Regions from separate parts of the Homo sapiens genome. Here all the other regions are linked to region 5. The links come from fine-mapping of genetic effects on gene expression. A gene starts in region 5. Each other region holds a variant in brackets. All regions are shown on one strand. Distances are from middle to middle.

Evidence for each region. PIP is the estimated chance that this variant, and not a neighbour inherited with it, causes the effect.
Region 1: its variant is fine-mapped to the expression of CCDC180 in whole blood (TOPMed, PIP above 0.99).
Region 2: its variant is fine-mapped to the expression of CCDC180 in whole blood (TOPMed, PIP above 0.99).
Region 3: its variant is fine-mapped to the expression of CCDC180 in whole blood (TOPMed, PIP above 0.99).
Region 4: its variant is fine-mapped to the expression of CCDC180 in blood mononuclear cells (TOPMed, PIP above 0.99).

Annotation. Positions count from the first base shown.
Region 1 is chr9:97,230,209-97,236,380 of GRCh38, reverse strand. It overlaps LOC124902224 (a long non-coding RNA gene), which reads right to left. Exons shown (of 3, transcript XR_007061684.1): 2 at 3,030-3,179; 3 at 1,364-1,496. It also overlaps the pseudogene ANKRD18CP and the pseudogene VN1R52P. Among named protein-coding and RNA genes, the nearest start is that of SUGT1P4-STRA6LP-CCDC180, 5.1 kb to the left of the region's middle. RefSeq lists an enhancer at 3,624-4,221. The variant TCTTTG/G (reference allele first, on the strand shown) is at 2,162.
Region 2 is chr9:97,206,179-97,212,350 of GRCh38, reverse strand. It overlaps the pseudogene ANKRD18CP. Among named protein-coding and RNA genes, the nearest start is that of SUGT1P4-STRA6LP-CCDC180, 29 kb to the left of the region's middle. The variant C/G (reference allele first, on the strand shown) is at 3,476.
Region 3 is chr9:97,248,533-97,254,704 of GRCh38, reverse strand. SUGT1P4-STRA6LP-CCDC180 (SUGT1P4-STRA6LP-CCDC180 readthrough) reads right to left here. Exons shown (of 45, transcript NR_036529.1): 3 at 3,862-3,913; 4 at 3,148-3,164. It also overlaps the pseudogene SUGT1P4 and the pseudogene SUGT1P4-STRA6LP. Among named protein-coding and RNA genes, the nearest start is that of SUGT1P4-STRA6LP-CCDC180, 13 kb to the right of the region's middle. The variant C/T (reference allele first, on the strand shown) is at 3,375.
Region 4 is chr9:97,236,954-97,243,125 of GRCh38, reverse strand. SUGT1P4-STRA6LP-CCDC180 (SUGT1P4-STRA6LP-CCDC180 readthrough) reads right to left here and starts at 4,700. Exons shown (of 45, transcript NR_036529.1): 1 at 4,559-4,700. It also overlaps the pseudogene ANKRD18CP, the pseudogene SUGT1P4 and the pseudogene SUGT1P4-STRA6LP. RefSeq lists enhancers at 4,299-4,458, 4,467-5,292 and a silencer at 4,245-4,539. The variant G/A (reference allele first, on the strand shown) is at 2,871.
Region 5 is chr9:97,305,207-97,311,378 of GRCh38, reverse strand. CCDC180 (coiled-coil domain containing 180) reads right to left here and starts at 3,720. Exons shown (of 37, transcript NM_020893.6): 1 at 3,573-3,720; 2 at 3,247-3,396; 3 at 1,775-1,965. The coding sequence starts at 3,315. SUGT1P4-STRA6LP-CCDC180 (SUGT1P4-STRA6LP-CCDC180 readthrough) reads right to left here. Exons shown (of 45, transcript NR_036529.1): 13 at 3,573-3,643; 14 at 3,247-3,396; 15 at 1,775-1,965. RefSeq lists enhancers at 3,515-4,015, 3,958-4,252 and a silencer at 3,958-4,252.

The DNA of each region.
Region 1 (6,172 bases), 75 kb after region 5:
CCCATTGATTCCGATTGGGATGGCACTGTAAGAGAGGCAGAACCAGTGAAGGAAACAAGGTTTTTTCAGGAGTTATATACAGGGGTGGTCCAGTGGTGGTGGGCTGGCCTGGAGAAATACTACCGTTCGTATTAAAAAAAAAAAAGCATGTAGTCCATATAGCATATAGCATTTTCACTTAGAACCCTCCTTCTAGCAATCTCCATTTAACCCAAAACAAAGGGCCTCGATCACCTGTACAGCCTGTGTTCCAAGGGATGGGGCAGGGATATGGCTGTCCTTCATAGATAAGTAGTGAATCTCAGTGTTGGCTACTCCCGGATTCCTTAGCCTGGGACTCCAAACACACTTAGAATAGGGTAATTCTCAGGTATGCTCCAGTTATGGCTCAGCCATACACCAAGGTGTATACACCAACCCCTGCCATGCACCAATATGCATATAAATATGAATAGCCTCTGAAAGGGCGAATTCCTAGATTGACCTATAGGCCCACATGAAAAGTTCTATATTAATAGCTATGTCATGACTGGGTGCAGTGGCTCATACCTGTAATCCCAACACTTTGGGAGGTCGAGGTGGGTGGATCCCTTGAGGCCAGGAGTTGGAGACCAGCCTGGGCAACATGACAAAACCCCATCTCTACTAAAAATACAAAAATTACCTGGGCTTGGTGGTGCACACCTATAATCCAAGCTACTAAGGAGGCTGAGGCACAGGAATCACTTGAACCTGGGAGGCAGAGGTTGCAGTGAGTGAGATGGCACCACTGCACTCCAGCCTGGGCAACAGAGTCAGACTCTGTCTCAAAAAAAAAAAATAGCTGTATCATGGACATTGAAATTATAATGAGATACCAAAACTACCACCAGAATGACTTAAATTAAAAGGATTTCCAATACCAAGCATTGACAAGGATATGGAGCATTTTTTAGAGAGAATGACCAAGGAGTTGGCTACAGTCAGGTGCTGCAGAATCAGATCTGTGGACCTTAATGTGCATCTGGTGAAATAAATAACTATAATGGTGATGAAGAAAGCAATTGCCCAGGAATCCTACTGTGGTCTGAGATAAGAAGATCATATTCCTATTGCCACATCCCTGGAGGCCATTTGTCTTTTTTCAATGACTGATCATCCTATTCAGAGTGAGAGGATCTGGCATGGAAACAAGAGGCCTGTCGTACCATGGCAACTGAAAGCCACTCTTTCCCACTTACCATTGTTTTCAAGCCATTAATTTCCTATTAAACTTCATTTTCCTCTTCCTGAGAGTTTCACTATAAAAATATATGTGTGTATAGATATATATTCCTAGCATAAGAGTACTATAATAGTGTTTTACATAGAACTTTTACAACAATTCTTTGAAGTGCTTTATTGTTCCCATTTGACAGGTGAGGCGATCTCAGGCACAGGAAGGCTGAATGACATTTCCAAAGTCACCTCCTTGTAAGAGGCAGTGTCAGAAGCTGACAATGGACTTGACCACTATGCTGTCGTAGCAACAGAGAGAAATAATTTTTAAGACAATCCATGTATTTAAAAAATATTTTTGTACCTCTTGTGAGTTTTTAAAAGAATCGTTTTGAGTTTTTTCTTTTTGATTGTGATTGAAAACACCAATACTTGTTTTATAGGCAAATATCATCTATAGTGATCAGAGATCCAAGTAAAATATAGATAGTCTGATCTTAGCATAATCTTAGAAGAATAATTATATACAACCAAATGGAATTTCTTAAATGCACAAATGGAATTAAAAGAGGAGGTTCTTTTCCATCTTAACCAAGAAGGAGGGCATAATGGAATGACCGTGTGCTAAGCAAGGGAGAAGGAAAACGAGTAGGAGGGAAAGCATTGCAGAGGAGAAACTAAATTACCATGAGTGTAGAAAAAAAAAAGTGAGGACTGGAGAATGTGAAAATATCAAATATAGTATTTCAATGTCAGAACAGTTCACTATATTAAAACTCAAGTCCATTATGCACAAGAAAAACTGGAGGTAATGATTATACATTGACCCAAAATGAGCACTGAGCCTGGGGATGACATGAAAACATTTTTAAACAAGAGGAAAGATAAAAAATAATGCAATTCTGAAAACTGCTGAGGAGCATAATGTTTTTTTCTAACACAAAAAGCTAAATTCAGTTACTTT[TCTTTG/G]CTGATTTAATGAGGGAAAAGAGTCTCACCATAATAAAGAGACAATAGATTTTTTCTGTCATGACACACTTATGGTCTCCATTTGGTATATTCTATGCACAGAGTTGTTGAAAACACTATATTTACTATTTCTGAACAGAATAAGATAATTCAATCAGCTACATCTTATACATGATCACAGGCATGGAGGTGTCATAGAAACACCTCTACAAATCTTGGAAATGTTCATGCAGATAAGACAGGGCAGCGGGCAAATTAATTTCCAAATTATATTAGAGAACTTAAAAATAGGCTGGATGTGATGGCTCACGCCTATAATCCCAACACTTTGGGAGGCTGAAGCAAGAGGATTGCTTGAGGCCAGGAGACCAGCCTGAGCAACATAGGGAGAGCTTGTCTCTACAAAAATTTTTTTTAAGTTTGCTGAGTGTGGTGGCACATGCCTGTGGTCCCAGCTGCTCAGGAGGCTGAGGTGGGAGGATCGTTTGAGCTGAGGTATTCGAGGCTGCAGTGAGCCACAATTGCACCACTTCACTCCAGCCTGAGAAATAGAATGAGACCCTGTCTCAAAAAAAAAAAAAAAAAAAGATTTCATGACTTTATTCAAACCAACAATGATGAACAGTGAGGATTACATTAAATGAGAAGCAGTTAGGGGCTGGTTTATGGTCTTGACCTCCATTCCTTCTCCACGAGTGCAGCCCACGACCCAGTGATGATTTCCCCTTCCCTGCATTGCGTTGGCACCGACTTAGTTTCTAGCCCAGAATTCCGTTTTCCAGACAAAAGACCCTGCTCCATCTCCCAGCACACTTCCTTCCTTTGCAGGCTATGCCTTCTAGACTGAAATAGAAAATACTCACCTGATTTTTCCCTTGTTGCTGTGACAATAGGTGCAGGGTGATGCTCAGGACAGCCAGTGGGTGAGTGCGTGGAGGAAGGCATCCAGGTCTCAGATATGGGTTTGTGTCCTGTGACCTCACCTTTTTGCAGCACTGCAATGAGCATTTCACCTGCGGCAACAATGACAGTGCATATTTGGGGAGCTAAAGATATTTCAAGAAACTTTGTCCCAGTTACCAATTACCAAAAACAAGTACAATTTTCTATGAAGGGGGCCAGCCCCTCCACACCTGTGGGTGTTTCTCATCAGGTGGAATGAGAAACTGAGAAAAGAAAGAGACACAGAGACAAAGTATAGAGAAAGAAAAGTGGGCCCAGGGGACGGGCGCTCAGCATATGGAGGACCCGCCCTGGCACCAGTCTCTGAGTTCCCTCAGTATTTATCGATCATTACCTCTACCATCTTGGAGAGGGGGATGTGGCAGGACAATAGGGTAATAGTGGGGAGAGGGTCAGCAGGAAAACATGAACAAAGGTCTCTGTGTCATAAACAAGGTTAAAAAAAGGTGCTGTGCTTTGATGTGCACATACACAAACATCTCAGTGCATTAAAGAGCAGTATTGCTGCCAGCATGTCTCACCTCCAGCCCTAAGGTGGTTTTCTCCTATCTCAGTAGGTGGAACATACAATCGGGTTTTACACCGAGACATTCCATTGCCCGGGGACAAGCAGGAGACAGATGCTTTCCTCTTATCTCAACTGCAGAGAGGCCTTCCTCTTTCACTAATCCTCCTCAGCACAGACCCTTTACCGGTGTCGGGCTGGGGGATGGTCAGGTCTTTCCCTTCCCATGAGGCCATATCTCAGGCTATCACATGGGGAGAAACCTTGGACAATACCTGGCTTTCCTAGGCAGAGGTCCCTGTGGCCTTCAGCCTTCGCAGTATATTATGTTCCCGGGTACTTGAGATTAGAGAGTGGTGATGACTTTTAACAAGCATACTGCCTTCAAGCACTTGTTTAACAAAGCACATCTTGCATAATCCTAAATCCATTAAACCTTGAGTCAACACAGCACATGTCTCTGCGAGCACAGGGTTGGGGCTAGGGTTACAGATTAACAGCATCTCAAGGCAGAAGAATTTTCCTTAGTACAGAACAAAATGGAGTCTCTTATGTCTACTTCTTTCTACATAGACACAGTAACAGTCTGATCTCGCTTTCTTTTCCCCACATTCTAGTGGGCATCTCTAGCAAGATGAGAGTGTTTGGCAGAGGCTCTTGCTTTCCATAATCCCTGGAGGCAACAGGAAGGGGCTCCTAGGGAGGGAGCAGGAAGGGGTGAGTCTAGACTGAGGGGCTAGCAGCAGAGCACACGCGTCTTACTAGAGTCTGTGCTTTCCTGAGATGGTCCCCTACAGAAAACCCAATTTTCTGTTAATCCTCAGATTCCTGAGCCAAACTATTATTTCACTGTGAACAGAGAAATGGGATCATGCGAGGAACTTGAGAAGGATATGTGAACAGATTACAGTGCAAACAGCAACTTGAAGTCAAATACTGATATGAAAAATAAATGGGAACAATGTTGGGCATTCCAATGTAAATTAACAATCAAATGTAGATGTTATATATTCTATAAATATATATTTTATTAACATTTACCCCTAGAGAAATAGAGATTCTAAATTGTATAATATTTATAAAAGAAACAGAGACATTTATCAGAGTCCCTCATATACACAGAAGCACCAAGTTCATATGATCCAGAGAGAAATTCTACTAGTAAACTAACTGATAACCTGACGCTACCTAAACTATTCAAGTCTTAGTCAATCTTCCCAATAGTTTTCAGGAAGGGTGCATAAAGGTGATATGAGATCTTACCCTGGTTTGAGCCATGTATTACAAAAGTATAGGACGTGTGAATATAAATGTAAACTTTTAAATATTAGAAGCCATTGTGTCAGCACATTGAAACATTACATCATAATCCACTGCCTTTTGTGCCAGAAATGCAAGTGAGAGTCAACACTTGGAAATCCATTAATACAATTAATTATGTTAAGAGAATCAGTGAGAATGTTATGTGTTCATGTCCATAGATTTAAAAAAAGACATTGCCAGGATTCTGCAGAAAATCATATTTTAAAAATTAATAAGGAACTAGTGTAAAATATATACATATTTTTAGACAGGGTCTTGCTCTGTCACCCCAGCAAGAGTGCAGTGGTGCAATCATAGTTCACTGTAGCCTCAGCCTCCTGGGCTCAAGTGATCCTCTTGCCACAGCCTCCCCAGCAGCTGGGACTACAGGCACATGCCAGCACACCCGGCTAATTTTTTGTTTTTTTGTATTTTGTAGAGACAGGGTCTCACTATATAGCCCAGGCCAGTCCTGATCTCCCAGCCTTAGTGGATCCTACTGCCTCAGCCTCCCAAATTACATGCATGAGCCACTGCGCCTGGCCCTAAATGTTTCTTGAGAGCAAAATCTACTTTCTATAAAGGCGGGCATGAGTCAACCCTTTCAAAGCCATTAGGGGCCAGGTGTGGTGGCTCATGCCTGCAATTACAGCACTTTGGAAGGCCGAGGCAGGTGGAACACCTGAGGTCAGGAGTTCCAGACCAGTCTGGCCAACATGGCAAAAAACCCCTTCTCTAGAAAAAATACAAAAATTAGTTGGGCATGGTGGGCACGCCTGTAGTCCCAGCTCCTCAGGAGGCTGAGGCAGGAGAATTGCTTGAATCTGGGAGGCAGAGGTTGCAGTAAGCCGAGATTGTGCCATTGCACTGCAGCCTGAGCAACAGAGCAAGATTCTGTCTAAAAAAAAAAAAAAAAAAAAAAAAAAAAAAAAAAAAAAAAATTAATAAACTATTAGGACAGTCTTGGAGGAAAAAGTCTTGGAAGAAAAAGTCTCTTGGGTAAGGATTAATTAACTGGTACACAGGCTGGCAAGGTGACCCTTAGTGGTCTGCCAGTCTCAGAAAAAAATTTATGCATCTAGGGAAAAATTGGTCACAACTAGGCAATTAGATCACAGCCTGCCCAGCAAGTAAAACAAAATTCTGTGTCAAGCACACCGTAAAAAAAAAAAAACACTGGTACAAACCTTAAACATTCCCTGATAGGCATCGTAGACTTTTTTGGTTTGTACTGCT
Region 2 (6,172 bases), 99 kb after region 5:
ATAAAAAATTATGAATTATAAATACTATTCCAATATCAGATGCTCTGAAATGTGACCTAATCTTTAAATCATCCTGCAAAATAGCAATAATTGTATCATTTTACTTAATTAAAATGTTTTTGTTAAGGAGTAGTAATAGTAATAATTATAACATCTGGCTGAGTGCGTGGCTCACAGCTGTTATTCCAGAACTTTGGAAAGCTGAGGTGGGAAGTTCCCACCATGCTAGGAGTTTGAGACCAGCCTGGGCAACAAAGTGACATTCCTACTCTACAAAAAAATTTTAAAAATTAGCTGATCATGCTGGTGCACTCCTGTAGTCCCAGCTACTCAGGAGGCTGGGCAGGAGGATTGCTTGAGCCTGCGAGTTCCAGGCTGCAGTGAGGCATAAATACACCATTGCACTCCAGCCTGGGCAACAGAGCAAGACTGTCTCAACAAACAAAAATCTAACAATTATTGAGTTGTTGCTTGTTCTGGAAGTGGTTCTAAATGCTTTACATAGAGTCTCATTTAAGCATCACACTGGTGTCTTGTGAGCTAGCTGCTTTGTCATCTTTATTAATGAGGAAATTCAGGCACAGAAAGGCTAAGCAATAGCTGGTATGTGACTGAGTTCAAAGTGGAACTCAAACCCTAGTTGAACTGAATCCAAACACCAAGCTTATTCTATCCAAATAGGCTGCTGTTTCATTAAGGTAGGGAGCAGTAAGAGCTAATAAATATTGTACTTTCTTCAAAAGAAAATTGTTTGTTTTGAAGGCAGAGGAATAACATGCCATTCAATGTATACAATTACATGAACCATTGTAGGTTTTGAGATACTGCACTACATTTCCTGAAAACTCCTCTCGCTCACTTAGGACTGTTCTACATTTGGCCTGTGCCCATGGCCATGTGGAAGTGGTCACTCTCTTGCTGGGGAGAAGATGCCTGATTGACATCTGTGACAGACTAAACAGGACGTCTTTAATGAAGGTACATAGTAGCCAACTCTTTCAGCATGAAATGCATTTGATTTAAATACATAGAATTAAAATGAATTTTATTTTATTATTATTATACTTTAAGTTTTAGGGTACTTGTGCACAATGTGCAAGTTAGTTAACATATGTATACATGTGCCATGCTGGTGTACTGCACCCATTAACTCGTCATTTAGCATTAGTATATCTCCTAATGCTATCCCTCCCCCCTCCCCCAACCCCACAACAGGCCCTGGTGTGTGATGTTCCCCTTCCTGTGTCCGTGTGTTCTCATTGTTCAATTCCCACCTATGAGTGAGAACATGCAGTGTTTGGTTTTTTGCCCTTGCGATAGTTTACTGAGAATGATGATTTCCAATGTCATCCATGTCCCTACAAAGGACATGAACTCATCATTTTTATGGCTGCATAGTATTCCATGGTGTATATGTGCCACATTTTCTTAATCCAGTCTATCATTGTTGGACATTTGGGTTGGTTCCAAGTCTTTGCTATTGTGAATAGTGCCACAATAAACATACGTGTGCATGTGTCTTTATAGCAGCATGATTTATAATCCTTTGGGTATATACCCAGTAATGGGATGGCTGGATCAAATGGTATTTCTAGTTCTAGATCCCTGAGGAATCGCCACACTGACTTCCACAATGGTTGAACTAGTTTACCGTCCCACCAACAGTGTAAAAGTGTTCCTATTTCTCCACATCCTCTCCAGCACCTGTTGTTTCCTGACTTTTTAATGATTGCCATTCTAACTGGTGTGAGATGATATCTCATTGTGGTTTTGATTTGCATTTCTCTGATGGCCAGTGATGATGAGCATTTTTTCATGTGTTTTTTGGCTGCATAAATGTCTTCTTTTGAGAAGTGTCTGTTCATGTCCTTCGCCCACTTTTTGATGGGGTTGTTTGTTTTTTTCTTGTAAATTTGTTTGAGTTCACTGTAGATTCTGGATATTAGCCCTTTGTCAGATGAGTAGGTTGCGAAAATTTTCTCCCATTTTGCAGGTTGCCTGTTCACTCTGATGGTAGTTTCTTTTGCTGTGTAGAAGCTCTTTAGTTTAATTAGATCCCATTTGTCAATTTTGTCTTTTGTTGCCATTGCTTTTGGTGTTTTAGACATGAAATCCTTGCCCATGCCTATGTCCTGAATGGTAATGCCTAGGTTTTCTTCTAGGGTTTTTATGGTTTCAGGTCTAACATTTAAGTCTTTAATCCATCTTGAATTGATTTTTGTAGAAGGTATAAGGAAGGGATCCAGTTTCAGCTTTCTACGTATGGCTAGCCAGTTTTCCCAGCACCATTTATTAAATAGGGAATCCTTTCCCCATTGCTTGTTTTTCTCAGGTTTGTCAAAGATCAGACAGTTGTAGATATGCGGCGTTATTTCTGAGGGCTCTGTTCTGTTCCATTGATCTATATCTCTGTTTTGGTACCAGTACCATGCTGTTTTGGTTACTGTAGCCTTGTAGTATAGTTTGAAGTCAGGTAGCGTGATGCCTCCAGCTTTGTTCTTTTGGCTTAGGATTGACTTGGTGATGCGGGCTCTTTTTTGGTTCCATATGAACTTTAAAATAGTTTTTTCCAATTCTGTGAAGAAAGTCATTGGTAGCTCAATGGGGATGGCATTGAATCTATAAATTACCTTGGGCAGTATGGCCATTTTCACGATATTGATTCTTCCTACCCATGAGCATGGAATGTTCTTCCATTTGTTTGTATCCTCTTTTATTTCATTGAGCAGTGGTTTGTAGTTCTCCTTGAAGAGGTCCTTCACATCCCTTGTAAGTTGGATTCCTAGGTATTTTATTCTCTTTGAAGCAATTGTGAATGGGAGTTCACTCATGATTTGGCTCTCTGTTTGTCTGTTATTGGTGTATAAGAATGCTTGTGATTTTTGTACATTGATTTTGTATCCTGAGACTTTGCTGAAGTTGCTTATCAGCTTAAGGAGATTTTGGGCTGAGACAATGGGGTTTTCTAGATATACAATCATGTCCTCTGCAAACAGGGACAATTTGACTTCCTCTTTTCCTAACTGAATACCCTTTATTTCCTTCTCCTGTCTAATTGCCCTGGCCAGAACTTCCAACACTATGTTGAATAGGAGTGGTGAGAGAGGGCATCCCTGTCTTGTGCCAGTTTTCAAAGGGAATGCTTCCAGTTTTTGCCCATTCAGTATGATATTGGCTGTGGGTTTGTCATAGATAGCTCTTATTATTTTGAGATACGTCCCATCAGTACCTTATTTATTGAGAGTTTTTAGCATGAAGGGTTGTTGAATTTTGTCAAAGGCCTTTTCTGCATCTATTGAGATAATCATGTGGTTTTTGTCTTTGGTTCTGTTTATATGCTGGATTACATTTATTGATTTGCGTATATTGAACCAGCCTTGCATCCCAGGGATGAAGCCCCCTTGATCTTGGTGGATAAGCTTTTTGATGTGCTGCTGGATTCGGTTTGCCAGTATTTTATTGAGGATTTTTGCAT[C/G]AATGTTCATCAACGATATTGGTCTAAAATTCTCTTTTTTGGTTGTGTCTCTGCCCGGCTTTGGTATCAGGATGATGCTGGCCTCATAAAATGAGTTAGGGAGGATTCCCTCTTTTTCTATTGACTGGAATAGTTTCAGAAGGAATGGTACCAGTTCCTCCTTGTACCTCTGGTAGAATTCGGCTGTGAATCCATCTGGTCCTGGACTCTTTTTGGTTGGTAAGCTATTGATTATTGCCACAATTTCAGATCCTGTTATTGGTCTATTCAGAGATTCAACTTCTTACTGGTTTAGTCTTGGGAGGGTGTATGTGTCGAGGAATTTATCCATTTCTTCTAGATTTTCTAGTTTATTTGCGTAGAGGTGTTTGTAGTATTCTCTGATGGTAGTTTGTATTTCTGTGGGATCAGTGGTGATATCCCCTTTATCATTTTTTATTGCGTCTATTTGATTCTTCTCTCTTTTCTTCTTTATTAGTCTTGCTAGCAGTCTATCAATTTTGTTGATCCTTTCAAAAAACCAGCTCCTGGATTCATTAATTTTTTGAAGGGTTTTTTTGGTCTCTATTTCCTTCAGTTCTGCTCTGATTTTAGTTATTTCTTGCCTTCTGCCAGCTTTTGAATGTGTTTGTTCTTGCTTTTCTAGTTGTTTTAATTGTGATGTTAGGATGTCAATTTTGGATCTTTCCTGCTTTCTCTTGTGGGCATTTAGTGCTATAAATTTCCCTCTACACACTGCTTTGAATGTGTCCCAGAGATTCTGGTATGTTGTGTCTTTGTTCTCGTTGGTCTCAAAGAACATCTTTATTTCTGCCTTCATTTCGTTATGTACCCAGTAGTCATTCAGGAGCAGGTTGTTCAGTTTCCATGTAGTTGAGCAGTTTTGAGTGAGTTTCTTAATCCTGAGTTCTAGTTTGATTGCACTGTGGTCTGAGAGACAGTTTTTTATAATTTCTGTTCTTTTACATTTCCTGAGGAGAGCTTTACTTCCCAGTATGTGGTCAATTTTGGAGTAGGTGTGGTGTGGTGCTGAAAAAAATGTATATTCTGTTGATTTGGGGTGGAGAGTTCTGTAGATGTCTATTAGGTCCGCTTGGTGCAGAGCTGAGTTCAATTCCTGGGTATCCTTGTTAACTTTCTGTCTCGTTGATCTGTCTAATGTTGACAGTGGGGCGTTAAAATCTCCCATTATTATTGTGTGGGAGTCTAAGTCTGTTCGTAGGTCACTCAGGACTTGCTTTATGAATCTGGGTGCTTCTGTATTGGGTACATGTATATTTAGGATAGTTAGCTCTTCTTGTTGAATTGATCCGTTTACCATTATGTAATGGCCTTTTTGTCTCTTTTGATCTTTGTTGGTTTAAAGTCTATTTTATCAGAGACTAGGATTGCAACCCCTGCCTTTTTTTGTTTTCCATTTGCTTGGTAGATCTTCCTCCATCCTTTTATTTTGAGCCTATGTGTGTCTCTGCATGTGACATGGGTTTCCTGAATACAGCACACTGATGGGTCTTGACTCTTTATCCAATTTGCCAGTCTGTGTCTTTTAATTGGAGCGTTTAGTCCATTTACATTTAAAGTTAATATTGTTATGTGTGAATTTGATCCTGTCATTATGATGTTAGCTGGTTATTTTGCTCGTTAGTTGATGCAGTTTCTTCCTAGCCTCAATGGTCTTTACAATTTGGCATGATTTTGCAGTGGCTGGTACTGGTTGTTCCTTTCCATGTTTAGTGCTTCCTTCAGGAGCTCTTTTAGGGCAGGCCTGGTGATGACAAAATCTCTCAGCATTTGCTTGTCTGTAAAGTATTTTATTTCTCCTTCACTTATGAAGCTTAGTTTGGCTGGATATGAAATTCTGGGTTGAAAATTCTTTTCTTTAAGAATGTTGAATATTGGCCCCCACTCTCTTCTGGCTTGTAGAGTTTCTGCCAAGAGATCCGCTGTTAGTCTGATGGGCTTCCCTTTGTGGGTAACCCGACCTTTCTCTCTGGCTGCCCTTAACATTTTTTCTTTCATTTCAACTTTGGTGAATCTGACAATTATGTGTCTTGAGTTGCTCTTCTCGAGGAGTATCTTTGTGGCGTTCTCTGTATTTCCTGAGTCTGAATATTGGCCTGCCTTGCTAGTTTGGGGAAGTTCTCCTGGATAATATCCTGCAGAGTGTTTTCCAGCTTGGTTCCATTCTCCCCGTCACTTTCAGGTACGCCAATCAGACATAGATTTGGTCTTTCACATAGTCCCATATTCCTTGGAGGCTTTGTTCATTTCTTTTTATTCTTTTTTCTCTAAACTTCCCTTCTCGCTTCATTTCATTCATTTCATCTTCCATCACTGATACCCTTTCTTCCAGTTGATCACTTCGGCTCCTGAGGATTCTGCATTCTTTACATAGTTCTCAAGCCTTGGTTTTCAGCTCCATCAGCTCCTTTAAGCACTTCTCTGTATTGGTTATTCTAGTTATACATTCTTCTAAATTTTTTTCAAAGTTTTTAACTTCTTTGCCTTTGGTTTGAATTTCCTCCTGTAGCTCGGAGTAGTTTAATCGTCTGAAGCCTTCTTCTCTCAACTCGGCAAAGTCATTCTCCGTCCAGCTTTGTTCCGTTACTGGTGAGGAACTGTGTTACTTTGCAGGAGAGGCACTCTGCTTTTTAGAGTTTCCAGTTTTGCTGCTCTGTTTTTTTCCCCATCTTTGTG
Region 3 (6,172 bases), 57 kb after region 5:
TAAACTACTATACAAGGAAGAAAAGTAGTTGCTTAGCATTTAAAGAAGAAAGGGGAAGAAAGGCAAACTGAGAACATAGTAAGTAGGACTGAAGAATGGTTAAAATAAACAAATGCAAGATTCAAAACAGAAAAAAGAATGAGAGATGAGAGTGCTTAATTACATCCTCAACTCTAGCCACACAGATCTGTGTATTTACCACACATGCTATTCTTCCACCAGTGTATGAGATGGCTCAGTAATGCAAGCTCATTATCATTTATTCACACTCAATTTAAATTACTTCAAATGGACACGCATTACCAATCTCTTGATAGACATACACCAAAAAAATCAAATTCATAATTTTTGGAAATATCTCCCTTTCAAATCTACCTAGAGTTTTGTGCTTGGTTACTCAAAATTATTTTATTAAACAAATTCTACACCATGTGGATATGACCAGAAACAGACCAAAATCCTGATAAGGGCCGGGCATGGTGGCTCACGTCTGTAATCTCAGCACTTTTGGAGGCTGAAGTGGGTGGATCACCTGAGGTCAGGAATTCGAGACCAGGCTGGCCAACATGGTGAAACCCCCGTTTCTACTAAAAATACAAAAATTAGCCAGGCATGGTGGCGTGTGCCTATAACCCTAGCTACTCAGGAGGCTGAGGCGGGAGAATTGCTTGAACCCAGGAGGTGGAGGTTGCAGTGATCTGAGATCATGCCGCTGCACTCCAGCCTGGGCAACAAGAGCGAAACTCTGTCTCCAAAAAAAAAACTTGGTAAGATTTCATCCCTTTTCTCACTTTCTATTGTCCCAAGCAGCTATTTCATAAATCTGCCTCATAATTAACCAGCTCTGTTCTTCACAATCTTTAAATAAATAAATAGGCAGATCCTTTTTAGCTAGATGCAAAAAAACTACTTCACTTTGCACTTCCTTCTCCAACCCTCTGAACCTGTCTCCTTTCTACAGGTCTAGTTACCATTCTTCATGACACAGGCCAACCCTGATCCTATTCCACGATAGGAAATTTCACATGTCCTTAGAACTTCAACTTAATAAATAGTAACAGTATGCTGCAGAACTTTGTATAAAAAAGGAGTAGTGGCCAGGCACTGTGGCCCACACCTGCAATCCCAGCACTTTGGGAGGCCAAGGCGGGTAGATCACTTAAGGTCAGAAGTTCGAGACCAGCTTGGCCAACAATGGTGAAATCCCATCTCTGTTAAAAATATAAAAATCAGCCGGGCATGGTGGCAGGCAACTGTAGTCCCAGCTACTCAGAAGGCCGAGGCAGGAGAATCACTTGAACCCAGGAGGCGGAGGTTGCGGTGAGCTGGGGTTGTACCACTGCACTCCAGCCGGGGCAACAGAGAGAGTCTCTGTCTCAAAAATTAATTAATTAATTAATTAAACATAAAAAAGGAGTAGTAATGGAAAAAGCCTACCTATATCATTTATTCGCCTGAACTCATTTATCATTATACCTTCATATAATTTTACAGCTGAAAGGACTCCAGAGCTCATTTGGTCCACGGACCTCCTTTCAAAGGTACTAAAAATTTAGTCATAGTCATTTTGTGCCTAGAGTAAATTCTCAGGGCTAGCAAAGATCCAGAGTCAGATTTCTTGATTTTCAGTTCAGTACTTTTCTTACTAAATTACACTATTATCTACATTTTTTTTTTAACTGAGGCAGAGTCTCACTCTGCCACCCAGGCTGGAGTGCAGTGGCGTGATCTCAGCTCACTGCAACCTCCATCTCCCAGGCTCAAGTGATTCTTCTGCTGCAGCCTCCAGAGTAGCGGGATTACAGGCGCATGCCAACACGACCAGCTAATTTTTGTATTTTTAGTAGAGATAGGGTTTCGCCATGTTGGCCAGGCTGGTGTATAACTCCTGACCTCAGGTGATCTGCCCAACTCGGCCTCCAAAAGTGGTGGTATTACAGGTGTGAGCCACCACGCCTGGTTATTATCTACATGCTTTGAGTGATAGTTAAATATTCTCCGAATATTAATTCTATTGTATAGCTTTATTTCTTTTTGAAAATATAAAGGAATCTAAAACTTAAACTGTAATTTTTCATTGTTCCCTCATAATGAAGTAACATAATATTTAGCTTAATTAAAAAACAAAACAAAACAAAAAAGCAGATTCATCTTTATGGTAGTTTGTCCTTTTTTTTTTTTTTTAGACGGAGTCTCACTCTGTCATCCAGACTGCAGTGCAGTGGCATGATTTTGGGTCACCGCAACCTCCACCTCCTGGGCTCCAGGGGTTCTCCCACCTCAGCTTCCTGAGTAGCTGGGATTACAGGCGCCTACCACCACACCTGGCTCATTTTTGTATTTTTAGTAGAGACAGGGTTTCACTATGTTGGTCAGGCTGGTCTTGAACTCCTGACCTCAACCGATCCACATGCCTTAGCCTCCCAAAGTGCTGGGATTACAGGCATAAAAATCTGCACTCAGCCTAAAAAGCTTTTTAAAGAAATAGAATATATTAGCGGGCTTGGTGGGGTGACATGCACCTGTAGTCCCAGCTACTTGGGAGGCTGAGGTAGGAAAACTACTTGAGCCCAGGAGTTTCAGGCTGCAGTGAGCTATGATGGCACCACTGCACTCCAGCCTGTGTAACAGAGCAAGACACTGTCTTTTAAAAAAAATAAAATTAAAAGTTACTTTTATTCAATTCCACCATAATTTTTAATAACTGAAAAGACTTGAAGGTCTTCATGCCCAAAACAATAAACATTACACTGAATTAAAGATAAACATTTCCAATTTTCCTTAACTTTTGTCTTAGCCTATCATAAAAAGCCCTACAAGTGATTCAAACTGTTGGACCTAAATAAATGTAATAAGGTTTTAGTAAGGAACAGATAAATAATCATTTTGACCATACTAAAACATACGAAATCGATTTTAACCACACGATAAATTCATTAAAATAGCCCAATAAATTTCATGACTAGAAACTTCCATATTTATGAAAAAATGGCTTTATTTCAGTTCCTAGAGGAACCAGTACTTAAATGGAATTGCTTAATATTTAGCTGACAGAGAGCTCATCCTGAGTCCTGTCTCAAATATATTGGGTACTTGAAATTTAACCTAAGTAAATAAAAACATGAAGAATGAAAACTCTGGACTTACCACCTCAGATTCCGAGCCTATTAAAACATAAAAAGGAAGAATTTTCAGTTAACAGTACATTTAAAGGCAAAGGTATTTATATGATTTTTATTGCACAAACATACTGATTAAGCAAGCCAATTCTCCATACCTTTCAACTAAAGAAAAGTGGGTTCATTTTGCCTCCTGAATTCATTTTAGACTCCTTAGTAATTTCTTTTTTTGAGACGGAGTCTCGTTCTGTTGCC[C/T]GGGCTGGAGTGCAGTGGTGTGATCTTGGCTCACTGCAACCTCCGCCTCCTGGGTTCAAGTGATTCTCCTGCCTCAGCCTCCCGAGTACCTGGGGCTACAGGCACGCACCACCACGCCCGGCTAATTTTTGTATTTTCTTAGCAGAGACGGGGTTTCACCATGTTGCCCAGGATGGTCTCAATCTCCTGACCTCGTGATCTGCCTGCCTAAGCCTCCCAAAATGCTGGGATTACAGGAGTGAGCCACCGGGCCCCGGCCTAGACTCCTTAGTAATTTCTTACTGATATGTCATACCAGCAAATTCACCCAAATCTCCTTTTCAACCTAAGAAGCTAGGCAAAAAACATTATATTTTTGGTAGTCTACATTTAAGGAAACATGTATTATTTAAAATAAATTATAAAGGTAAAAACAAATTTGTTTAAACCAAAAAATTTCAAATGTTTACTTCTTTTTAAATTGAAATACCATGGGAGATCTACATACCATTCTGAGCTTCGACACCTTTTAATCCAGTCACTGAAATTAGCATCTGCACCTAGAAAGAAAAACCTATCACATCACTCATCTGCACAACCTGTTAATCAGCAAATACTTATTAAATACCTATTACATCCCAGGCACTGTTCTAGGCACTGGGGAGTCAGCAGTGAATAAAACCTGTCTTAACAGAACTTATGGCAAACTCTGTTATAGCTATAAACATACCAATAGTTTAACACTTGGTTGTTTATCCTGAAACATTTTGATTTTTTTAAATTAATTTTAACTACAGTAAACCTCACTAATTTCATAGATATAAATAATGCACATTTCCCTCAATCCCTCTGCCCTTAGAGAAGCTTCCTCATACACACAACAAAGTCAGATCTAAATCAGACTCCCAAAATGCCATTAGTTAGGGTGGGGAGGAGGCTTGGTAACTGGGAGCTGAGTTGAGGTCCTTAAGCCTTTCCCAGCCCCAGCTCACTCTTCAATGCAGCTACCTATTCAGTCCACTATTCTCTCAGTGGCTTTATCTGTTCCCATCCCTTTCCTACCAACACCAAGAAGCATCTTTAAATTCTGTGAAGTTTTCTCATATATCCAAGTTACATGGGGGTCAAGAGGCTACAGGTGATAAATTATATACTTACAGATAATAGTGTAAATGTAGGCGTAAACAAATTATTCACTTCTGGAGACACAGAACAACGATTACATCTATACACAGTGCATAGTGAAATACGTTAAAAACATCGAGAGTACTCTAAATAAAAGCCTACTAATTCAAGTTAACTCCAGCCAAGAGTAATCTGGAAATTTTAAATTAAAAATCTCTTAAAACAAAATTTTCTAATTTACTAATTTATAAAAGAAATACAACTACATGGGCCTTAATAAAAATTTTAAATATACTGTCTCACATACACTATATTCTAGAGAAGAGGGTTTGAATAACTTATTATTTTAAATAATCAGTAACTAAAATCAGGCAGTCTAACATACAAAGAGGGGAAAAGGTAATATTCTGAGTTATAAATTTTTTACCCTGTCTGATAAAAATAGAAGCCTAAAAGTTTAACTTAAATTTTTCCTGGATTTAAATGTAAAGATAAATTTGTTTTTTAGTGAAATATCCTCAATAGCAATTTTACCAAAGAGGCCTTCTTCTGAAGGCCACCTCTGAAGTAATTAGAGAATAAATGTCAATGGCATGATATTAAGATATTATTCGGCCGGGCGCGGTGGCTCACATCTGTAATCCCAGCATTTTGGGAGGCTGAGGCGGGTGGATCACGAAGTCAGGAGTTTGAGACCAGCCTGGCCGACATGGTGAAACCCCCATCTCTAATAAAGATAAAAAAATTAACTGGGCGTGGTGGCACGCACCTGTAATCCCAGCTTCTCTGGAGGCTGAGGCAGGAGAATCACTTGAACCCGGGAGGCAGAGGTTGCAGTGAGCCGAGAATGCACCATGCACCATTGCACTCCAGCCTGGGAGACAGGGCGAGACTCTGTCTCAAAAAAAAAAAAAAAAAAAAAAAAAAAGAAAGAAAGAAAGAAAGGAAAAAAGGAAGGAAAGAAAACTCAAGAAAGGAAAGAAAACTCAAGAAAAGAATTTAGGGGCCAAGTGCTGTGGCTCATGTCTGTAATGCCAGTGCTTTGGGAGGCCAAGGCAGTAGGATCACTTGAGGCCAGGAGTTCAGAGACCAGTCTGGGCAATGTAGCGAGACCTCATCTCTACACAAAAATGTTTAATGAATTAGCTTAGTGTGATGGTACATGCCTGTATTCCCAGCTACTCAGGAGGCAGAGGCAGAAGGACAGCTTGAGCCCAGGAATTCAAGGCTGCAGTGAACTATGATGGTGCCATTGCACTCGAGTTTGGGTGAAAGAGTAAGGCTCTGTGCCCCCAGGTCCAAAAAGAAGAAAAAAAAAAAGAAAGGAATTTAGGCAGGAAACTTTTCTATTGCTCTTAAAAGTAATAAGGCCTAGAAATGTAGAGGATGAGGTCAGGCATAAAGGCTCACGCCTGTAACCCCAACACTTTGGGAGGCTGAGGCAGGTGGATCGCTTTAGCCCAGGAGTTCAAGACCAGCTGTTGTAACAGGGCGAAACCCTGTCTCTGCGGAAAAAAAAAGCAAAATTTAGTGAGATGTGGTGGCACGTGCCTATAGCCCCAGTGACTTGGGGGGCTGGGGTGGGTGAATCACTTAAGCTCAAGAGGCGGAGGCTGCAGTGACCCAAGATCACACCACTGCATTCCAGCCTGGGCAACAGAGTGAGACCTTGTCTCAAAAAAAAAGAAAATGTA
Region 4 (6,172 bases), 68 kb after region 5:
ATACAGGGTACCTCACTTATCTTCAAAATAAACCTTTCAAGTAGGTCCTATTTGTTCCCATTTGACAGATGAGAAATCTGCTCTGGACTGATGACAGGAACCTTACTGAAGTTACACCGTTATCATGAAACCAGAACTTTGACCCAAGAGTCTCTGACTCCAGAGCCTGGGTTCTTAACCACCACACACACTGGGCCCTGAACGATTCTCAAAATTCACACGTTTTCTCTCCCTACTGAATTTTGCAACCTCCTCTGTAAAGTTTTTAACTCCCTCAGTCGGATTCTATTCTGCTACGCTCATTTTATACACAACCCCATTACAGTAGTTACCTTATATTTTAATGATCTGTTGACTTGTCTTTCCACTAGACTGAAAACTCACTCACTGAAGCTTATCCATCCTTAGATTCCTGATTTCCAGTACAACATTCACCACTTAATGTTCATTCTTTGTTGAATGAATGAAAAATGTGAAACAGCCTATGTGATAAGAACATTCCCCTTTATTCCTAATTGGATGACCTTATATCAAATATACACATTTTAACTCACATGATACCAAGTGACCTGAATCCCAAATGCCTGTTAAAGTAGCCCTTGGGACAATCCAGGAGAAATACACTCACATTCATCATCAAAGTTTCGGCCCTACTTATCATTACCAATTATTTAATAATTTACATTGACCTGTTCATCTTTGTGAGGTCATCTCACAGTTTAAAAAGAACATTTCTTCTTAACACAGCTGGTTCTTATCATGATCATCCTCCCCACACCCAGGGTTTCTGATTCTGGGTCTGTGGTGGGTCCTGAGAATTTGCATTTCTAGGGCCAGGCATGGTGGCTCACACTGTAATCCTAGCACTTTGGGAGGCTGAGGCGAGTGGAACATTTAAGGCCAGGAGTTCGAGACCAGCCCGGCCAACATGGTGAAACCCCATCTCTGCTAAAAATACAAAAATCAGCTGGGTGTGGTGACACACGCCTGTAATCCCAGCTAATTGGGAGGCAGCGGCAGACTCACTTGAACCTGGGAGGCAGAGGCTGCAGTGAGCTGAGATTGCACCACTGCATTCCAGCCTAGGCGACAGAGCAAGACTCCATCTCAAATAAATAAATAATTTGCATTTCTAATATGTTGATGCTGCAGCTTATCTGGAGCCCACACCTTTGAGGACCACTGTTCTATAGCACTAGACTAAAATTTGGAAAACCTGTGTCCTAAGGCCCCCCCCTTCTGCCTGTAACTGGTGTGTCTCTATGACAGATCATTTGGATTTATTTGAATCTCTGTTTACTTTTTAAGAAACGGGGTTTCTTTATGTTGCCTAGGCTGGTCTTGAACTCCTGGTCTCGAACTCCTGGTCTCAAGTGATCCTTCCACCTCAGCCTCCCAAAGTGGTAGGATTATAGGCATGAGCCACCACGCTTAGCAAGGTCTGCTTTCTTATGTACACTGGGAAAAGGAAGAGTAAGAAGTACTGGACTACATGAGTCATAAGGACTTTTTTTTTTTTTTTTTTTTGAGATGGGATCTTGCTCTCTCACCAAGGCTGGAGTGCAATGGTACAATTTCGGCTCACTACAACCTCCACCTCCTGGGTTCAAGTGATTCTCCTGCCTCAGCCTCCCAAGTAGCTGGGGTTACAGGCGCCTGCCACCATGGCCCAGCTAATTTTTTGTATTTTTAATAAAGACGGGGTTTCACTATGTTGGCCAGGCTGGTCTCAAACTCCTGACCTCAGGTGATCCACCCGCCTCAGCCTCCCAAACTGCTGGGATTACAGGTGTGAGCCACCGTGCCAGGCCCATAAGGACTTTCAATAAGAATCTGCACTTCTAGTGAATTGCCACGTCATGCTGTTACTGCTGGCCCAAGAGCCACACATTAAAAACCAAGGTACCAGTGCTAACCACATGACTATTCTATCCAGTTCTACTCCTAGGTATATACAATCAAAAGAAAGAAATGCATGTGTTCACCAAAATACACAAAAGAGTACTCACAGAAACTTTATTTATGCTAGCTAACAACTAGAAATAAACCAGACGTCCAATTAGAATAAATTGTGCTATACTTACATTTATACAACATATATTTATACAATTATACAATGGAATACTACACAGCAATGCAAAAGAACTACTGCTTCACACAATATGGATGTATACTCATGGAATGATTAAAGCAAAAACAGACTGCGTACATTGAACAAAGCACCTACTATATGATTCTGTTTATGAGTCCAGAACAAGCAAAACGAACAGATGGTGATGGAGGTCAAAACAGTAGTCAGCAGGACAGTAAGAAGAACTGCTGGCTGGGAAGGAGCATGAAGGAACCTTATGAATGGAAATGCTCTATATCTTGATCTGGGTGGTGTACACGTATCTAAAAACTCATCAAACTGTAGACTTAAAATTTGTGTTATTTACGTATGTCATATATGCCTCAATAAAAAATTTAAGGCCGGGCATGGTCACACCTATAAACCCAGCACTTTGGGAGGCCGAGGTAGGCAGATCACCTTAGATCAGGAGTTTGAGACCAGCCTGGCCAACATGGCAAAACCCCATCTCTACTAAAAAGTACAAAAATTAGCCGGGTGTGGTGGTGTGCGCCTGTAATCCCAGCTACTTGGGAGGCTGAGGCAGGAGAATCGCTTGAACGTGGGAGGCGGAGGTTGCAGTGAGCCGAGATCATGCCATTGCACTCCAGCCTGGATGACAGAGTGAAACTCCGACTCAAAAAAAAAAATTAATAAGTAAAAGAAGATAGAAAGTGACAATGAAGTTTATTATATTAATATTCTTTAAAAGCAACTTTTTTTTTTTTTAAGACAGAGTCTCACTCTGTCACCCAGGCTG[G/A]AGTGCAGTGGCACAATCTCAGCTCACTGCAAACTCTGCTTCCCAGGTTAAAGCAATTCTCCTGCCTCAGCCTCCTGAGTAGCTGGGACAACAGATCCACACCACCACACCCCGCTAAAGTTTGTTTTGTATTTTTAGTACAAACAGGGTTTCACCATGTTGGCCAGGTTGGTCTCAAACTCCTAACCTCAAGGGATCCACCCTCCTTGGCCTCCCAAAGTGCTGGGATTACAGACATTAGCCACCGCGTTGAGCCTAAAAGCAACTTTTATACAAACTGGATTTCCAAAGGATGCACTAGCCCTAACATGACAATTAAGAAATGTAAATTCAAAGTAATAGCTATCTAATATAAGAAATTACAGAGAAAAATTTTCACTGCTTCCTGTAACATTATCCCAAAACTGATCCCAGAAGCCTTATTGCTGGTATCTAAAGGTCTATATATTTAGATTCAAAAAACATACCTGGGCCCTAAAAGGCCATACAGGACGTGGCTCCGAGTTTCCTGTCCAACCTTATCTCCTAATCAAATGGGCCCTCTAATAAAAAGGGCCTTTTTGCTGCTCCATACACAGGCCAACTTCATGCCTACTTCAGGATCTCTGCACTGGCTCTTGGTCCTGCCTGGAATGCTCTTTCCCCAGAACTTCTAAGCGAATTCTCTTGCTTCTTCAGGTCTCTGCTCAAATATCACCTTAACAGAGGCTCCAGCACCCTATGGCACATTTCTTATAAAAGCCATAGCTAGAAAAGACGCCGTCTTGCCTCAAATTGTTAACGTTACTTATGTTAGATTATAACAACAAAACAGGGTGTCCTTTTTTATGTGCTTTAAAGCAAAAAACAAACAAACAAAATGAAAAACAAAAACCTCCTGGTTAAATTCTGTGACCCACAGCATCATTTATCTTTAGGCTCTTCTTTAACTCCTATTATTTAACTCTTGCTCTTTTACATTCCTTTACAGCTTTATAGTTTGTCTTCACTGCACACCTGCAAGAAGTGATTTCTTGGTTAGCTAAGTATATAACTAAGACTAACCCATAGCAATCAGCGCCTTTGCACACAGCAACTCCTAAAACATTTTTTGATGAATAAACAAATGAGTGAATAATGAACTATGACAAGACATCTGGAAAGTTTCAGGGACGTGAGGGAAAAGGTTTTTGTTCCAGTAGACTGACTTCATACCGGCACTTTTACATAAGAATGGCAACAATGATGTCAAACGAAAAAATTAATTTTCATCGAGCCCAGAGTCCACTTTTCTCTTCTAGTCATAACTGCCATTAAAAAAAAAAAATCCTTTCAGCCCAACTACAGTTGTCAACCATGTTCCCAATAAATGGAGGAGGTTTTTCTCAGAAGTGCAGGAATGCAAGAGTCTGGAAATGGAAAGGGCAAGACAGGAGTCTGAGGTAACGCGAGGAGACTGAGAATCTCAATACTGGGGCGGACACGCAGTAACCACAGGACCCTGGGTCCCAATCAGGTGCTGCTGGGAGGAGGCGCGTCAGCCAGGGGTGGAGGAAGCAGAAAAGGCTCTCTCACCTCTAACGCCGCAGTGGATTAGAGCATCTGAGAAGCTCTGGAAAAAACCTCTCAGGAAAACAACGACTTCAGCAGGACCCACTAGCCAAGGAAAGGGGATAAAATAAATAGCAAAGGGAAGGAAAAACACGCACCTCTGGGATGCTGCAGGTCCTGTTGCAGCCGCCGCCATCCCTCGAAGCCACCGTTGCTTCTGCCAGAGCTGCTACTAGCGCGCTTATCAGCTCCGCCACCGCCCAAGGGGGAAACTTCTGCAGAAACCCCAACCGAGCTTCCGTCGTAAGTAGCCAACGAGCAGCCACGCAGCGTGCTGCTAGCGGGGCGGGAGGCTACGCGCGGGCGCGTGGCCTGCTGGGGCAGTGGAGGACCGAGTCTTCCCAGCCCGCACCCTGGCCTGGGACCCGCGCTCCCAGTCCCGGGACCCGCGCTCCCAGTCCCCGCCCCTAGCAGCCATGGTTATGGAGGCCCGGGCCAACACGTTCTCCTTCTCTTCCACCGCGCCCACTGCTGCGGTCACTCGGACCAAGCCTCCAGGAGTAGTAGCTCAGAAGCACTTTTGTAGCATACCGTTACCCCTCAGGAGCTTAGCGGTTAAGGGCGTTTGCATGTCTTTTAGTAACACAAGCTCCAGGCCGGGCGCCGTGGCTCACGCCTGTAATCCCAGCACTTTGGGAGTCCGAGACGGGTGGATCACGAAGTCAGGAGTTCAAGACCAGCCTCGCCAAGATGCTGAAACCCCGTCTACGAAAAATACAAAAATTAGCCGGGCGTGATGGTGGGCGCCTGTAATCCCAGCTACTGGGGAGGCTGAGGCAGGAGAATCGCTTGAACCTGGGAGGCAGAGGTTGCAGTGAGCCGAGATCGCGCCACTGCACCACAGCCTGGGCGACAGAGCAAGACTCCTTAATAAATAAATAAATAAATAAAAAATAAATAAAATAAGCTACTTCGAGCTCCGTTTTCCCTAGGTTTTATCATGGCTGCCACAGGTGGCCAAGCCCTTTCGTCTCCGTGATGTCACTGGAGGCTGCGTGGTCTTTTCAGGGAACAGAGGGGCCTGGATGGCGCCTGGATTCCGGCGATCGTTGCGCTGGGAATGGAAAAGGGCTGGGACTCGCTGGAAGTCGTTCTGAACTAATAGAGCTAAAGGCCTTCTGGTTCCTGGGGAGACGCGCCTGGCCCCCGTGTACTATTCATTCCCTTCCTCATAACTCCACAGCCCAGGCTTTCTTCTTAGTGGGCTTCCTAGACCGAAAGTGATCTCAGGGCCGCTTTGTTTCCCATCCCGGTCGGTCAGGCCCTCCGTCAGCGCCCTTTGACCCATGCAGATCGGATGGGGAAAGCTGCCAGCGCCTTCCAGGGATGGGGGCAGAATGGGGAGCTGGAGGGAGTGGTCTTTTTCTAACTTTATACCACTATCAAACTGTGTTAATTCATGTAGCTTTATAATAAGTCTTGAAGTCCTGTGACTTTATTCTCCCAAGATTGCTTTGGCTTATTCTAAGGCTATTGTATTTGTAGGTGAATTTTGGAATTAGCTTGTCAGTTTAAAAAAAAAACAAAACTGCTAGGATTTGTACTGGGCTTGCGTTGGATCTGTAGATCTGTTTGGGGAAAACTAGTATATTAACAATACTGTCCTTCAATCCATTAATATCATTATTTCCCACCATTTATTTAAGTGGCCTCTAATTTTTCCTGGTAATATTTTGTAGATTGTACACATATTTATATCTTAATGTTTGGAT
Region 5 (6,172 bases):
CATGCAGACCTAGCAGGGAGGAAGCTGCTGGGCCTGGGCTGCAGCTGATGGGGCCCAGGCCAATCTTCTAGAGACAGGTCTTTCAGACCTTGTCATTCTAAATGCCCCTGGACCAAGGCAGCCCTGTAGGAGCTGAGATGATGACACCTGCTGTCAACTCCAGCTTCTTGGTCACTTGCTCCAGGGACTTGGGGCTTGGTTTATACCAGTGGTGATTTACCCCCTGGCCTGGGCTGGTATCCACCCACCCAGGAGTCTGCCCTGGGTGATGAGCACATAGGTGGACTGGCCTTAGCTGGCCGAATCTTCAAACACCTGCACCCTTTGCTTTGACGCCTGAGGGAGACAGGGTGCCCTGGCTCTGCCACTCATGTGTTCAGCCCAGTCTGGCCTCTGCTAGCCCTGCAGAGTGTCTAGAGGGAGCTGGGCCCTATGGGTAGTTCCTCTAGATTCCCACCTGGGACATCAGGCTGCCTGTAACCCTGGATGCCCACCTGGGGCATCAGGCAGGGTGATATGGGCTAGAGAACACTGACCTCGAGTCTGGGCTTGGGTGGGCCAGTGGATTTTTCTATCTGTTGGGAGTTCAGAGCATGAGGGTCAGGAGTTTTGGGGGTGGCTTTCCTGGGAAAATTCAAAGGCCAGGTCAGGGCAGAGAACTATACTCAGCAAGGGGTCTGTCCCTGCCCCAAAGAGGGTGAAAGGAACAACCAAGACAGGCAGCGGAGGCCTGCTTTCTATCTCAGAGTCCCAGGCCCAGCAAGGGTTTATGGCTTGTGTAGAACTCAAAGTGCCTAAGGGGAGCACCGCGCCTGCTCCATTCTCTCAAGAACCCTGGGAAGATCTGTTTCTTCCTTTTCCCCATAGCTGACAGTCAGAGCTCAGCGAACTGAAATGGCATGCTTAGGAACTTCTGAATTTGGAAGTTCACAAGAAACTCCTGATCTCCATGCCTGACCCCCGCCTGCTCTCATCTGAGGAAAATACATTTCTGCTGTTCACCCAGCACTCAGGCCAGAGACCAAGGGCTCTCAGGAGCTCTCTCCTCCCCTCCAATTCATCACTAGGTCTCATGGGTTCTGCCTCCAAGAGACACCCGAGGCCCACAGCTACTTTCCCTCTCACAGCCACCAACAAGGTTACAAGGACAACTGCAGTGTCCTGTGCCCTGGCCTTCCTGCCTCTTCTTGAAGCCCCCCACATTCTGCACAGAGCTGCCTGAGGGACTTCAAAAATGCAAATCAGCTGCTCACTGCAGTAAAGTTCAAAATACTGACTGTGGCCTGAAAGGCTGCTCCCAGCCTCATCTCCTGCCCTCTCTCAGGGTCCATTTACCTTCAGCCTTCAGGAGGGGGCCAAGACCACCTTTCTCAGAGCCTTGTCCCCATACTGCACCCTCTGGTTTCAGCTGATCCTCCTCCTCAGAGAGCTTTCCTGACCCCTGTCCCATAGCCCCATCCCCTTAATCAGAGCTTTTCTGCCATTGGGGGGATGTGCTTATTTATTTACTTTCGAGGTCTCAAGTTTCATAAGGGTGGGATCCCCATACCCAGTGCCTGGTCCTAGGCACTTAATCAATAATGACTGTGGGAGTGGGGGAATGGGGGCGAGAGAAGCAAACCATCCTGCAAGGTAGGTATTAGCCTCCCTGCTTTAGGGGTGGTACTTGAGACTTCATTCCTACAGGCTACTCATCTTGTGCTGGCTCTTTTTGAGTTTTTGAAGGCTCAGGTACCCTAGTGCATGGGGGTGAGGCATGGACAACAGGACCTACCTGTGGAGAACAGGGTTTTCCATGATCCAGTCGTTGGGGAGGCTGTGCATCCACTTCTGCTGTCGGGGAGACATCACCTCCCCTTCAGGAGTCTCCACCTTCTTCATCATGGGTATCCTGCCACTCTTCAGGGTCACAGAACGCTCTGCAGCCCGCTTCCTGGTGGCCGCCAGGGAGTGGACCAGCTGCACCTGAATCCAGGGAGGACCAAGGATGGGGGAGTGGTCAGAGCTGCTGACTTCCTAGCACTCTCAGGCTGATGGTGGCTGTCTAGAAAGACATCCAGAGAGCTGCCCCCAGGAAGGTACTTTTCAGGAGGCCTTCAGCCCCAGGTCATATCCCTATAGGAGAGCTCTCCTCCCAGTAACAGTCACTCAGCCACTTCAAAGAAGGCCTCTTTCTAAGAACCTTAAATGAAGATCAAGATGAACATCTCAGCCTTTTTTATAATCACAAGAAATTGGAAAAACAGAACTGACTAATAATAGGGATTGGCTGAGTAAACATGGTATGTCTGTTTGATGGAATGTTAGGCATTTGTTAAAGATGAGACCCACAAATAATTTTTTATAACCTGAGGAAATGCTTAGGAGATGATATATGGTTAAATATATCACTTACATGCATTAGAAATTATAGAATTATAGAAATTAGAAATTAGAAATTATAACCAAAACTATACCGTATGATCTCAAAATTTAAAACGCATAGGAAAAGGCCCTGGGGGAAGTATGCCATGAGTTAAGAATGGCCTTAGAGAGAGCAGGATCATGTGAGTGATGTAATTGTTGTTTTGGCTTCTTTATACTTTTATAATTTCCAGAGGTTTTACAGATAATTATTTAAGGCTTAAATTAGGAATGCAAATCCCTTTTAAATAAGCAGTACAGAACTTCAAAGGAAGAATTTGGGTCTGTGTGTTTCTTTTAAGATCTTGTTTTGTCTATACAGTGCTTTAGAGAGAACAAGGCAATTTCAACAACCTACACTGTTGTCAAGAGGGCTTTACTTTAATACAGTTATGGGAGTCCTAGGTCAACAAGTGGGGAGCTGCTCAGTATGGTGAAATACATGGGCGCCCACGGGCATAGAAAAGGGTCTGTGAGATACTGTTATGAAGAAAAAGCAGATTTCAAAACACTAGTACAGAATGAAACCTATTTTTTAAATACAAAAATTAGTCATGTTTTTATGCATGGGAAAAACAGAGGTCACCCAGTGGTTCCATCCAGGCTATTTCTGAGTAATTTACATTTAAAATTTTAATTTAAGTTTTCTAATTTTCAAGAACTGACATTCTAATTTTGTATTGGTACGATTTAAGAACAAGCAAGAATTATTTTTAAAATCAAAGTAATTTCAAAGCCCTTGTTTTATTCAATTTCCAGTAGGGAAGCCCTGGGAGGGAGGGAAGTTTGGAAGAAAGCAAGGGAAGGGGGATGGAGAAAAGCGGGACAGAGGGCGGCTCCTACCTCAGCCTGGAAGATCTGCTGGTAGGCTTTCCCATTCGGAACCTGGGTCACCTTCCCCACTGACGACATCTTGGCCGCTGGCTGGATGCCCCTGCCGGGAAGCCGTCGTCCAGGAAACGCGTCTAGGCTTTGGTGTCTCAATTCCAATTCCTGAGGTTGGGAAATCGCCCGTCCCAAACTCAGGTTCAGGTCCAGGCGGGACGACGTCTGGCCTCGAGGCGGCACCCCAGGGCAGGACTCCCCGGGGAAGGACTCTCTGCTGGGGGGTAGGCGGCTGGGGAACGTCGACTTAGGGTTTTAACTTTCAACGAAACGATGAAACTAACCTCAGATGAGCTCTGAACTCGAGCAGGAGGCCGGTTCTCCCCGCCGCGCATGGCGCAAATCCGAAGGGACTCTGGGAACGCGAATAATACAGGATTATTGCTTGTGCTTCACTCTGCCATGCTCTTCGGGGAAAAGTTAACGGCGCTCAAGGTGTCGGTTGGGACTGGAACTCTAATGCGGCGCAGAATTCGCATCCGGGACCCTAATCCACCCTCCATGGGACACAGGGAGGAGAATTGGAGGGAGAGAGTAACCTGATTCAGGTCACGCTAATTAGGCGCCTACTGTGTGCTGAGAAGACCCAACCAGCCTCTGCCATCCCCCTCCCTAGCCCGCCAAGTAGACTGAGCAGCCCCTGGCCGTCCCCCTGAGCCCGGTAGATTGGAGGGAGGCCTTGCGTCCGGCCTGGCCGCGTCCCCGCCTGCAGAAAGCACCTCTCAAGGCAGCCAGGGCCGGTCCAGCGACAACTGCAGCTGGACGCCCATGGTCTCCAAGGCAACGCGGAGGGGAGGGACTGCCCCGGCCCCGCCCACGCTTTTCTTCCCAGGGAGGGGAGATTGCTCTTAGCAATGGGAGCGCCCCACGTGGCGTAGTGAAACTCAACTATTTCTTTCAATGCCAGTTCCTCCTCTCTACAAGGACTACAACCCCAGGGCTGCCAGGAGCAGCACTATTAAATGTTCTGAAAGGTGGTAGGATATATGAGATGTAGCACTGAGCCATCACGGTCAACAAAGTCCATCCTAACTTATTTGCCTTGGTTAAAACCAATCTCTGCTGGGGGACAGCATACGGTAGTGTTTGCCTGTAAGTTAGAAGCTGAAAGACTCTGGAAGAAACCATCTCTTTCTCATTTTAAAAGAGGTTGAGAGCTCAAAATTCAGGGATCAAGGCTTGCCTGGCCAGAGATGAAAATGCTTGTGGTTGGCACTGAACGTGGCCTCGGGTTTCCCATACATATGAGACACCCAGTGCCGCCTTACAGAATCCCTCCCTTTGGCAGTGATATGTTACAACTGCTAATAAATGCTCCCTATGCCAATTTTCTAGAATGAGTGATTGTTCTGTCCAGACTAGAATCAGAAATTAAGAAATGGTGAGTATAAAACCCTTTTATTCTCATTCTTCAGTCCTGGGTTTTATTAACAAGGTGAAGTACTGTAACAAAGATTAGATTCATTTTAGCTGGAAAAAGAAAACGTGTAGGTGACTGAGGGAAGGGATGAAAACACAATAACAAATAGGTAATGTCCAGGAATTACTTGCAGTCTCATATCTCTTTCCCATCCAAGGAGGCCCTACTGGCTTTGGCCTTGAACACTAGAAACTATTTTCCCTACCCAGATGCTTTCTGGGTTCTGGTTCCAGGCACATCTGTAATTTAGGGGTTTCTTTCTTTTTAAAAATTATATGGCTATAAATAGCAGGCATGGACATGTGAAGTATGGGATTTTGTTTTGATTAAACTCCATATTTATTGTCAAAAATTAAAAAAAAATGAAAAACTTCAATGGAGAAAGTAAAAATAACCCATAATCCCAGCACTGAGAATTTACCTCCCTTAACTTCCAAGTTTTTGAGACTGTGTTTGAGTTTGCATCAAACGTGGAAATTCGTGTTTGCCTTTTGGATGGCATTTCCATTCTCCTCCCAACCTGATAATATCATAGCGAAAGACTAACCAGTTAGAGATCATCTGGTTAGTCCACCTCCTGTGTTTAGATACGGGCAAAAAGCCAGAGATAGGGAACGGAAAGAATGACACCAGGGCCTCTGGATCTTTTTCTTGTAGCTCAGCATCATCTTTGATCTTTTCCCTCTCACTCTTAACTTTGAAAATGTCTCTTGACCCCATCCTTTTCCTTCCTCTATCCCAGGCTATTGTCTGTCTTCTGCATAGTCCAGACAAAGCAGAGCAATGAGGACCACCACAAGAGGCAAATATTTAATGAGAAGATTTAATGCCTGTAGTGACTATGAGAGGGGTGCCTTAAGTAACCCATTTTACTGATTAAGAAACTGAAATTCAGAGTCAGTGACTTGGCCAAGATCTCCAAGATAGGAAGATCTAGGATATGAATCTAGACCCTGTAATTCAAGTCTTGAACCATCTGACCTGTGACTAGCCAGAAAAAAAGTTATTTAACCAACTGATTGGATGTGCATGTTGAAGCATAGCGTACATATCTAAAAGTATAGAAATCATAAGTGAATAGCTCAATGAATTATCTGAAAGGAACGTGCCTAGTAAGCAGTACCCATAAGAAACAGAGCATTACCAACTCTTCAGAAGCCCCTTTTGTGTACCTTTCATGTCACTGCCCTCTCTTCCCCCAGGATAACAAATATTCTAACTTCTGAATTGGTTTTGCTTCTTTAAAAATTTTATTTAAATGGAACCATAGAGAATGGACTCTTTTATGTTGGGCTTATTTCATTATGTTTGTAAGTTGTATACTTTTTTTTTTTATTGAGACGGGGTCTCATTCTGTCACCCAGGCTGGAGTGCAGTGGCACAATCATAGCTCACACTGTAACCTCAGACTCCTGGGCTCAAACAATCCTCCCACTTCAGCCTCCCAAGTAGCTAGAACTACAG